Regions from separate parts of the Homo sapiens genome. Here region 2 is linked to region 1. The links come from fine-mapping of genetic effects on gene expression. A gene starts in region 1. The other region holds a variant in brackets. All regions are shown on one strand. Distances are between the middles of the regions. Region 1 holds the start of MYBPC2 (myosin binding protein C2). Region 2 has its middle 5.6 kb from the start of MYREM.

Region 1 (5,358 bases):
ATCCAGATTTCTGCCTTCACTTAAAACTTTGGACGGTCTGGAGAGAGTCGGCCAGTTTTCGGTGGGGGGTGGGGAGCTGGAACAGGACAGTAGCCTTTCCTAATGAGGCATTTGTTCTCCAATCTGCCCCAGTCGCTGCCATCCCTGGCTATCTCACCCTAGCAGCTTCTCAAGCCTGTTGGCTTTAGACCACTGTATAAACCCAGCTGGAACTGAAGCCTGGGTGGACTATGGAGCCCTGGTTGGGACCCCCAGGGAGTCAAAGGCTGCGGGCCAAGAGGCCAGAGGTCCTTGAGCCTGGGTGGGCAGGTGGATCTAGGGTGCATGACTTGCTGCTTCCCAACCTTAGTTTGTCCCTTCTGTGAAAAAGGGAGAGAAGGAGGAGGAAGATCTCAAAAAGACTTTCCAGCCCAGTGCGGTGGCTCACGCCTGTAATCCCAGCACTTTGGGAGGCCGATGCAGGTGGATCACCTGAGGTAGGAGTTCAAGACCAGCCTGACCAACATAGTGAAGCCCCTTCTCTACTAAAAATACAAAATTAGCTGGGCGTGGTGGCATGTGCCTGTACTCCCAGCTACTTGGGAGGCTGAGGCAGGAGAATCGCTTGAACCTGGGAGGCGGAGGTTGTAGTGAGCTGAGATCACACCACTGCACACCAGCCTGGGCGACAAGAGCGAAACTCCGTCTCAAAAAAAAAAAACTGTTGCAGCCCCGTTGAGCCTTTGACACCGCCTGAAATCCACCCCACTCCCAGGAGGAGGAGGAGGAAGGAATGCCAATGACCTAGAGACACGAGAAGTCCATGTGGAGGCACACAGCAGCTGATGGCAGAGCCCAGGCTGGGACCTGCCCTTAAGAGAATGAGTGGGAAGGGGGAGGGAGGAAGGGCAGGTAAAACGTCCTCCCCAGGGCCCCCTGCAACGGGGAAGGTACTTTTTACAAAAGCTATCATTGTCACCCTAAATGTGGAATAAAATAAGATGCATCGACGTAGACAAACCTCCTGGGACCTTTTGTCAGGGACTGCAATCCTGCCCCTCCACTGAGGCCGCTGGCTCTCAGAGACACCGTGACATCACGGGTGATGATGAGAGGAGTTCAAAGAGAGAATTATATGCTGGCGCGGTGGCTCTGTAATCCCAACACTTTGGGGGGCCAAGGCAGGAGGATCGCTTGAGTACAGGAGTTTGAAACCAGCCTGGGCAAGATAGTGAGATCCCCTTCCCACCCGTCTACAAAAAAAATAAAAAATTAGCGGGGTGTGGTGGCGTATGCCTGTAATTCCAGCTACTCCGAACTACTGAGGTGGGAGGGTCACTTGAGCACAGGAAGTTGAGGCTGCAGTGAGCCGTGATCGTGCCCCTGCACTCCAGACACGGCGAGACCCTGTCTCAAAAACAAACAAACAAATCACAAAGACACCATACAGCAAAACCTATCTGAACCTTAATGCCGAGAAATAAGAGGCTTGACGCGCAGGCACAGAGGGTTCCGTTTATGTCTTCCTCTATTCCTGCCAACTGAAGTTCTCCACCTCCTCCCCGCTTCCCCTTCCGTCTGGGTGTCTGTCCCCTTCCCTCTGAATTGAGCCCTCGGGCTGGCAGCGAGGGACGCGAGGCTTCAGGTGGCCGCGGCACTGCAGGCCTGGGCCCCTCCCCAACTTAGCGGGGCTCGCGGGAGCGCAGTGGCAGTCTGCCTGGCAACCCGTGACATCACATGGAACTGACGCCGGATTGGCTGGACGCTCCCCGGAGGCGGAGAAATTTCCGGCTCGTAGGGGGTTTTGGAAAAGGAGGAGGGGGAAGATGAACAGGAAAAAAAAGCGGAGGGACTTGTTTTCCTCACACCGGGTCCCTCACGCTGCGTTACTAGCCAGGCAGTCCCCCAGCCTTAACCCTAAGTCCCCAACACCCTTTCCCTCCTTCCTCCCCACAACACCTGGTGTCCCCAAGCCCCGCCCCTCCCCAGGCCCCGCCCCCTCGGCTCCCCGCCGCGTCCAGAGCCACCCCATTCAGAAAGTCACAGGTCCCCCTGCCGGGAAGGGCGCCAACGTCCGGGCAGCCCTCCAGGGCCTTCCCAGCCTCCCACCCGCCCCCACCGGGGACGCCCACCCCCTACCCGCGTCCGGTGCCTGCCGTGCCCGCTCCGGGAAGAGTCGCGGGGAGCGGTCCCAGGAGGGGCGGCGGCCAGTCCGGGGTCCCAGATGGCCGGGGCCCCAGCTCTTTGGGTTTGCCCACGCCCGGGGCGCGAAACTCCGGAGTCCCAGAGCCGCGGCGCCCTCCCCGGAGGCGCAGGGACCTCCTCCCCCCGCCGCCGTCCTGCCTACGCTAGGAAACCGGACCCTCCCTCCCGGCTCCGGTTTCCCGAAAACTCCTGACTTGCAGATGCTAAGAATGGCTTCCTAGACCCTGTCCCTCCCCTCCCTGCTTCATGCCAGAGCTCTGGCCCGCAGCCCTTACCCCCTTGAGACCCTCAGTCTCTTCCTCTTCCTTCTCCCGGGACCCAGGCGTCCAGGCGCTCGTCCTTTCTAGGGAACCCAAGAATCTGGGACCCCAGTTGCTTCTGCTCCCAGACTCAGGGGTCCAAGCACCCAGTCCCCTCCTCCCTGAGATTCTGGAGTCCGAGCCCCAGCCCCCTCCTCCCTCAGACCCAGGTGTCCGAGCCCCAGCCCCTCCTCCCTGGGGACCTGGCTCTCAGCCATCTCCCTAGGTCCAGCTGTTATTTCTCGCCCTTTAGAACATGCGGGCGGAATGTGGGGCGGCCCTGTGGTCTGATGTCTCCCGGAGCCTTCTGGGAGTCTCAGGACTCATTAAAAGGCTCCCCTTAGGGGCCCACCTGTCCTCCCTAGGGCCTAGCGGGACGCGGCTGCGGTCAGAGGAGCAGGAGGAGGTCCCCCGACATGCCTGAGGCAAAACCAGGTGGCGCCAGGACCCCCTCCCTGTGTGGGGATGGGGCTCTTCTTTTCTGGATGGGGATTTGGGACCCCTCTGTTTGTAGGGTTGGGAGAAGGAGGAACCTTCGCTGTGTGAGGAGGAGGCTCCCTTTGCTGTGCGGGATGGGGGTTCCCGCATCAGTTTAGGGTGAGGGTCTCGACTCTGCATGGGGAAGAGGGTCCCTTCCCTTTGTGACAGGAGTTTCCTTCCTTGTATGAGATGGGGTGGGTCTCATATCTGTGTGGGGTGAGGGATCCCCTTCACTCAGCAGGGAGGGTGTTTCTTTTTCTATAAGTGATTGGGGGGGCATCTCTGGTGGAGATGGGATTCTCTGGTTGTAAATTGGGTTCCTTTTGCTTGATGGGGATGGGGGTCTGTGTGTGTAGACTGGGTTTTTTTGTTTGTTTTTGTTTTTTGGTTTTTGGTTTTTTTTTTGAGATGGAGTCTCGCTCTGCCCCCGGGGCTGGACTGCATTGGTGCGATCTCGGCTCACTACAACATCCGCCTCCTGAGTTCAAACAATTCTCCTGCCTGGGGTAGCTGGGATTACAGGCCTGCGCCACCATGCCTGGCTATTTTTGTATTTTTAATAGAGACGGGTTTCGCCATGTTGACCAGGCTGGTCTCAAACCCCCAACCTCAGGTGATCCACCCGCCTCAGCCTCCCAAAGTGCTGGGATGACAGGCATGAGCCGCCGAGCCCGGCCAGACTGGGAGGTCTTTGCATGTGACTGGATTCTCCACATCCGGGGATGGCATCCTCTGGGCAGGGTCTGGGCCACTTCTCTGAGTGAAGACTCAGAGGGAGCCAGGTGCAGGGGCTCACGCCTGTCATCCCAGCACTCTGGGATACCGAGGCAGGAGGATTGCTTGAGGCCAGGAGTTCAAGACCAGCCTGGGCAACATGGCGAGACCTTGTCTCTACAAAAAATTAAAAATCAGCCAGGTGTGGTGGTGCATGCCTGTAGTCCCAGATACTTAGGAGGCAGTTGAGGCTGCAGTGAGCTGTGATCACGTCACTGCACTCCAGCCTGGGTGACAGAGTGAGACCCCGTCTCTAAAAAACAAGCAACAGCAACAACAAAAATGGCCCAGTGCGGTGGCTCATACCTGTAGTCCCAGCACCTTGGGAGGCCAAGGTGGGTGGATCACCTGAGCCCAGCAGTTCAAGGCCAGCCTGGCCAACATGGCAAAACCCCGTCACTACAAAAAATACTAAATTAGCTGGGCTTGTGGGGGTGTGCCTGTAGTCCCAGCTACTCAGGAGTCTGAGGTGAGAGGATCACTTGAGCCCAGGAGACGGAGGTTGCAGTGAGCCCAAATCTTGCCACTGCACTCCAGCCTGGGAGACGGAGCGAGACCCTGCTGGGAAAAAACAGAAACAAAAACAAAAAATAGATTCCAAGGGACCTTCTCTGTAGGATATGGGGTGATTGTGGGTATAAAGATTAGTGGTTCCCATCTGCATGGAGTCACAGGGGAAGTCTCTGTATTAAGGATGGGGGAGCCTCATTTCTGTGGGCACTGAGGCTTCCCCGTGTAGGAATTAGCGGGGCTTCTTCATGCAGGGAATGGGGTCCTTTTTGCGGGGTTTGGGGACCTTCTTTGAATGGGGAACACTTTCTGTGGAGATGAGGCTTTCTCTCTATGAGGAACTCACCGCAGGAATCATGCACCGCTGGGCGGACCCCCTCCTGGGATGTCTGGTCCGCTGGCATCAGGCCAAGCAGGCTGTGGGGTGGGTCCAGCCCCTACTGTAGCTGCAGACCCAGCCGGCAAGGAACAGCAGGCAGGGCAGGGGAAGGATGCTGCGGTCAGCACCAGGTGTCCAGTTTCCAGCCCAGAGGGAGAGCTAATTATACCCTCGGACCCAAAAGGTCAGGGCGTGGTGGCCTGGGCGGATGGGGCAGGGCCTGCTGGGGGTAAGGGAAACCCGATCCCACAGACTCTCAGATCTGAGATAAATTTATACCTAGGGTGGGGGCCTGGACTCTTGGGTCTGAGGGAGGAGGGGCTGGGGGCCTGGACTCCTGGGTCTGAGGGAGGAGGGGCTGGGGGCCTGGACTCCTGGGTCTGAGGGAGGAGGGGCTGGGGGGTCTGGACTCCTGCGTCTGAGGGAGGGGCATGGGTGTGCAGACCGCATGCTCAACTATGACTGTCCCCTACCTTACAGCGGCCAAAAAGGCCCCCAAAGGCAAAGATGCCCCCAAAGGAGCCCCCAAGGAGGCTCCCCCTAAGGAGGCTCCTGCAGAGGCCCCCAAAGGTGAGGAGGTGCTCCCTCGGGCTCAACCGACCTGGCTTCTCATCTCCATCCTCCTCGCTACGCCTCTCCAGGCCTTTCCCCAGCCTCTATCCTTGAATCTGTCCCCGCACAGCCCCAGGGCTGACCCACGCCTCCCGTGCTCCCAGCCCTCCCGGGGCTCCC
Region 2 (5,358 bases), 62 kb after region 1:
GAGACAGACAATGAGACAGAAAGCGAGAGACAGAGAGAGACAGTGAGAGAAACAGACAAAATGATGGCGAGAGAGTGAGAAAGAAAGAGACAGCGAGAGAAACAGAGACAATGATGGCAAGAGAGTGAGAGAGACAGAGCGAGAGAGACAGAGACGGACTGAGAAAATGAGACAGAGACAGCGAGAGATGGGAGAGACAGGGAGAGAGAGAGAGAGAGAGAGAGAGAGAGAGAGAGAGAGAGAAGCGCCAAAGAGAAGCCACCAGGAGCGTGTGGAGGGGAAGCCAGGTGGAACTCACTGAAGGTGCAGGGAGAGGAAGGGGAGGCAGGAGTGAGAGGAAAGAGGAGAGGCAAATCCAAGGGACAGAAACTGGAGGCAAAGGAGGCAGAGGAGGGAGGGAGACCAAGGGCACAGGCCCTAACCACAGTGCTGCCCCTTGTCCCCGGCCCCCTTGTCTCCTTCTGACACAGTCGGTTGCTGTGGACGGGCACAGTGAGACTGGGGCCCCATCAGCGCCTCCTCTGGGGGTTGGGTACAGACGATGAGGAAATGACAGGGCGGGGATGAGGAGGAGGACCTAGCGCAGGGGAAGGAGAGGGCAGAAGACAGTGGGGGGTGGCAGTCTGGAGGACAAGGGAGAAGATTCCAGAAAGGCTGAGAGCCACAAGGTGGACAATCAGGAAAAGGTGGGGCTGGGTGGAAGCGTGTGGAGGACTGGAATATCGCCCAAGGGAGGAGCAGTGTGTGCAAGACCTAGAGAGGAGGAAACACTGAGGATCCAGCCGAAGAGAGGACACACAGGGACAGGGACAGCCTGTGTGTGTGTGTGTTATGGATAGGGGGAGGAGGAGGGGGGAGAGGAAAGAGGAGGAGGAGAAGGAAGAAGGAGGAAGAGGAAAGAGGAGGAAGGGGGAGGAGGAGGAAAGGGGGAGGAGGGGTGAGGAGGAGGAGGAAAGAGGAGGAGGAAAGAGGAAGGAGGAGGAGGGAGGAAGAAGAGGAAAGAGGGAGAGGAGGAGGAAAGGGGGAGGAGGGGTGAGGAGGAGGAGGGAGGAGGAAGAGGAAAGAGGGAAAGGAGGAGGAAGGAGGAGGGAGTAAGAGGAAGGAGGAAGAAGGAGAAGGAAAGATGAGGAAGGAGGAAAGAGGAGGAGGTGGAGTAAGAGGGAGGAGGAGGTTGCGGTGAGCTGAGATCGCTCCATTGCACTCCAGCCTGGGCGACAGAGCGAGTCCCCATCTCAAAAAAAAAAAAAAAAAAAAAAAAAGGGAATTTGGGGGCATGCAGAGACAGGAACAGAGTGGGAGCAGGGGTTGGGGGAGAGATTCAGAGAATGGGAGAGAGGAGAGGGCGAGAGAGACAGAGGAAGGGGGTCACAGAGGAGAGGTAGAAGGAGAATGGGGAGGGGCAAATCCTCTTTCCCGCCCGAGCCTCAGTTTCCTCATCTGCTCCCTCAGGTGGTGAGGAGTCCAGGGACCACCCGCCAAGTGTCTGCAGGGCAGGAAGGCCTGCGGAGGGGAGAGGGAGGTGGAGGAAGGAGGCTCAGGCTTGAATCCAGTGTGGTGACTGGCAGCAGAAGCGTCCCCTCCATGGGCACGGGCTGCCTCTCAGGCTCAGATTCTAGAGTGTTCCTTCCTAGAGTCCCTCCAGGCCTCCTTCAGCCTCCCCCACCCCACCCTGACCTGGGAGGGAGTAGCCATTGTCGTCCACATATTTTTCCAAGGGAGAAATCAGGCTGCAGCCCACATCCTCCTTCCTCCTCCTCTTTCCTGCAGCCCCGCACGGTGTAGCTGGCCACCCCTTCTAGGGCTGTGGCGGCTGAGGGGAAAGGAAGGGGCTAAAGAGAGTCGCCTTGGTACACAGTTGGCGCTCAATTGGTGCCCTTCCCCTTTCCTAGGGGAGAGCACAGAGAGTAGGAAGGCAGAGAGAGGAAGAGAAAGGGGGAATCGAGGGTGAGAAGGGGAGGCTGTATCTATAAAAAGCCTGGCACACAGTCGGTGCTCAATAACTGCCCAGGCCCTTCAGGACCACATGAAAAGGGAGAAGAAGAAAGTCCCGCAGAGCAAAAGCAGAAGGAGAGGCAGCCTAAAGAGAGGGACATAGAGCCAGGCACGGTGGCTCACGCCTGTAATCCCAGCACTTTGGGAGGCCTAGGCAGGTGGATTGCCTGAGCTCAGGAGTTCGAGACCAGCTTGGGCAACACGGTGAAACCCCGTCTCTACTAAAATACAAAAAATTAGCCGAGCATGTTGGTGGGTGCCTGTAATCCCAGCTACTCAGGAGGCTGAGACAGGAGAATCGCTTGAACCCGGGAGGCAGAGGTTGCAGTGAGCTCAGATTGCCCCCCTGCACTCCAGCCTGGGCGACAGAGCAAGACTCCATCT[CA/C]AAAAAAAAAAAAAAAAAAGAGAGAGAGGCACGGGTGGAAAGTGTGAAGCAGACCAGTAGGTGTTTGTTAAGTGTTATTTCTTTTCCCCAAGAGACAGGAGAAAGTAAAGGAGGAGTGAGGAGAGGAGGAAGAGGAGGAAGAGAAGGAGGAAGAGGAGGAGGAAGGAGAAGAGGAGGAAGAGAGGAGGAGGAGGAGGAGGAGGAGGAAACTCCAGCAGAGAGAATAGAAGAGACTGTTGTGTGGGAAGGAGACAATATATGTAAAGTGACTAATACACAGTGGGTGCCTAATAAATGCCCATTCTCCTCCCTGGCAGCAAGCACAGAGAAAGCAGCCAGGAGGAAGGGAGCAAGCGGAGAGAAGGAGAAAAGGAGAGAAGGGAGAACAGAGCCTGTGAGGCAAGCAGACAGTGTAGATGAAGCGGCAGCATACAGTAGGCACTCAATACATGCCTATTTCCTCCCTCAGGAAAGAGCTGGCAGGGCAGAGAGGAGGGGGAGAAGCTGGTGGAGAGAAGGAGGCAGGGAGAAGAGAGGAAATGAGAACAAGTACACTGGTGAGGTGGTGGGCACACAGGAGGCACTCAATAAATGCACATTGTCGTCCTTGGAGGAGCAAGAGAACAAGACAGAAATGAAGGCACAGACAGGAATGAGAGGAAAAGGTTGGCCCAGGAGGCCTCCGTGGGGGTGGAGGAGCAGAGGGAGGAGGGATCAGTGAGAGGAGTGTGGCAGAGGAGAGGATACGCAGGGAGGGGGCATTGCAGGTAAACCATGGGGCACACAGGAGGCACTCAATAAACACCTGTACCCTTCCCCAGAAAAGGACCCAGAGAACAGCAAGGGGATAAGCTGGCAGAGCAAGAGGGGCAGCGAGAAAGAGGTAGGAGATGAGGAGGGATGTTAATTGCCTGGCATACAGTAGGTGCCCCATAATTGCTTGTCTTTGTCCCCGAGAAAGAGCCGATGGGACAGAAAGAAGTTAGAGATAAGGGAAGAAGGCGAAGTGAAGGGTTAGGGGAGAATAAGAAAACTGTCTGGCACACAATAGGTACTCAATAAATGCCCATTTTCTTCCCTGGCACAGAGCAGAAAGAAGCAGAGACTGGTGGAGTCAGTGGAGACTGAAGGGCAAGAGGAGAGGAGAGAAAGGACATAATTGCTTGCATACCAGAAGTGCTCAATAAATGTAGTCCTTGCCTTGGAAGAGGGCAGAGAGCTCAGAAACACAAGGAAAGGACAGAAGAGGGACCGGGGAGGAAGAGAGTGAGGAGAGAGGTATGTAAGGTGTTTAGTACACAGTAAGTGCTCAAAATGTGTCCACTCCCTCTGCCAGGAGAGAGCAGAAAGTCAGAAAGGAGAGGACACCAATAGAGAGGAAAGAAAGGGGCCAGGCGCCGTGGCTCATGTCTGTAATCCTAGCACTTTGAGAGGCAGAGGTGGGAGGATCGCTTGAGCCCAAGAGTTCGAGACCAGCCTGGCCAACGTAGAGAGACCCTGTCTCTACAAAAAATACAAAAATTAGGCTGGGTGCGGTGGCTCATTCCTGTAATTCCAGCACTTTGGGAGCCAAGGTGGGTGGATCACCTGAGGTCAGGAGTTGAAGACCAGCCTGACCAACATGGTGAAACCCCGTCTCTACTAAAAATACTTAAAAATTATCCAGGCGTGGTGGCGGGTGCCTGTAATCCCAGCTACTCGGGAGGCTGAGGCAGGAGAATCGCTTGAACCCAGGAGGTGGAGGTTGCAATGAGCTGAGATCACGCCATTGCACTCCAGCCTGGGCGGCAAGAGCAAAACTCCATCTCAAATAATAATAATAATACAAAAATTAGCCAGGAATGGTGGTGTGTGGAGTTCCAGCTACTTGGGAGGCTGGGGTGGGAGGACTGCTTGAGCCCAGGAAGTCGAGGCTGCAGTGAGCTGCGATTGTGTGCGCTCCAACCTGAGCGACGGAGTGAGACCCTGTCCTAGAAAGAAAAAAAGAAAGAAAGGAATGGGGGTGGGGGGAGGAAAGAAGGTAGCGAGAGAGGAGCCATGTTCCTCAACTCCTCGGCGCATAGCAGATGCTCAGTAGATGCCCGTTTCCTTCCCAGGAGAGACCAAGCAAATCAGAAAGAGAAAGGAACTGGGGCAGAAGGGACAGGAAAGCAAGAAGGATGGAAAGTGCAGACGCGGTTAGGGGAATTGCCTGCCAAGCATCAGGTGCTTAATAATTGCCCGTTTCTTCCATGGAAGGAGCCAGAGGCACAGGAGGAACAAGTAGAGGGCGCCGAGGACGGCACACCCGAGGCGGGCACACCCGAGGCGGGCACACCCGAGGACGGCACACCCGTGGCGGGAGACGGAGTGTGTGAGGAGAGGCGAGGAGGCATTTTGGGTGCATACAGCAGGTACTCCATAAATGCCTGTCCCCTTCCCCAGGCAGAGCAGAGAAAGCAGGCTGGGAGTAGGTGGAGACCCCAGGAAGGGAGGCCAGGGGAGAAGGAGAGTCTGAGGGTGGAGGCCGTGGGCCAGGCCCGCAGGAGGTGCACCTTCCCCAACCCAGCAGCCGCTGTGGCCGACCCTCCTCCGTGGCCCAGCCCACAGGCCTCCCCAGCTGGCTGGCTCCTCCGGAGCCCTGACAAGGGCCCATTGTCCTGGGCCTGGCACCGCCTGGCCTGGCCTGGCCTGGAGGGGGAGGGGAGGCTGTCCAGCCCTGACCGGCTCTTGTCCCCTGTGTCTGTTTGTGTGTATTGGAGTGGGGGCGCTGTCTGGTCTGTCTGTCTCTGAGTCTCTCTGTGTCTCCCTGTCTCTCACGTGCTGTGTCTCTGTGACCTGCTGTCTCTCTCATTTCTGAGCTTACGGCCCCCATCTTGTCTCTGTCTCGCTCTGTCTCTCTCTGTCTCTTTCCGTGCCTGTCTCTGGTTCTCTCTCTGCATCCATCTCTGTCTCTGGGAGGGAGGAGCCCCCACCCCCAGCTCCAGAATTCCCACCCCCTA

The links. PIP is the estimated chance that this variant, and not a neighbour inherited with it, causes the effect. A credible set is the group of variants that fine-mapping cannot tell apart.
Region 2: its variant is the best candidate, but not a certain one, in a credible set for the expression of MYBPC2 in prefrontal cortex (CommonMind, PIP 0.72).

Annotation. Positions count from the first base shown.
Region 1 is chr19:50,430,055-50,435,412 of GRCh38, forward strand. It overlaps MYBPC2 (myosin binding protein C2), which reads left to right and starts at 2,838. Exons shown (of 28, transcript NM_004533.4): 1 at 2,838-2,918; 2 at 5,107-5,196. The coding sequence starts at 2,900. It overlaps SPIB (Spi-B transcription factor), which reads left to right. Exons shown (of 6, transcript NM_003121.5): 6 at 1-1,260. RefSeq lists silencers at 1,955-2,044, 2,075-2,294 and enhancers at 2,644-3,402, 4,217-4,717.
Region 2 is chr19:50,491,839-50,497,196 of GRCh38, forward strand. No RefSeq gene overlaps it. Among named protein-coding and RNA genes, the nearest start is that of MYREM, 5.6 kb to the left of the region's middle. RefSeq lists enhancers at 268-327, 368-447. The variant CA/C (reference allele first, on the strand shown) is at 2,377.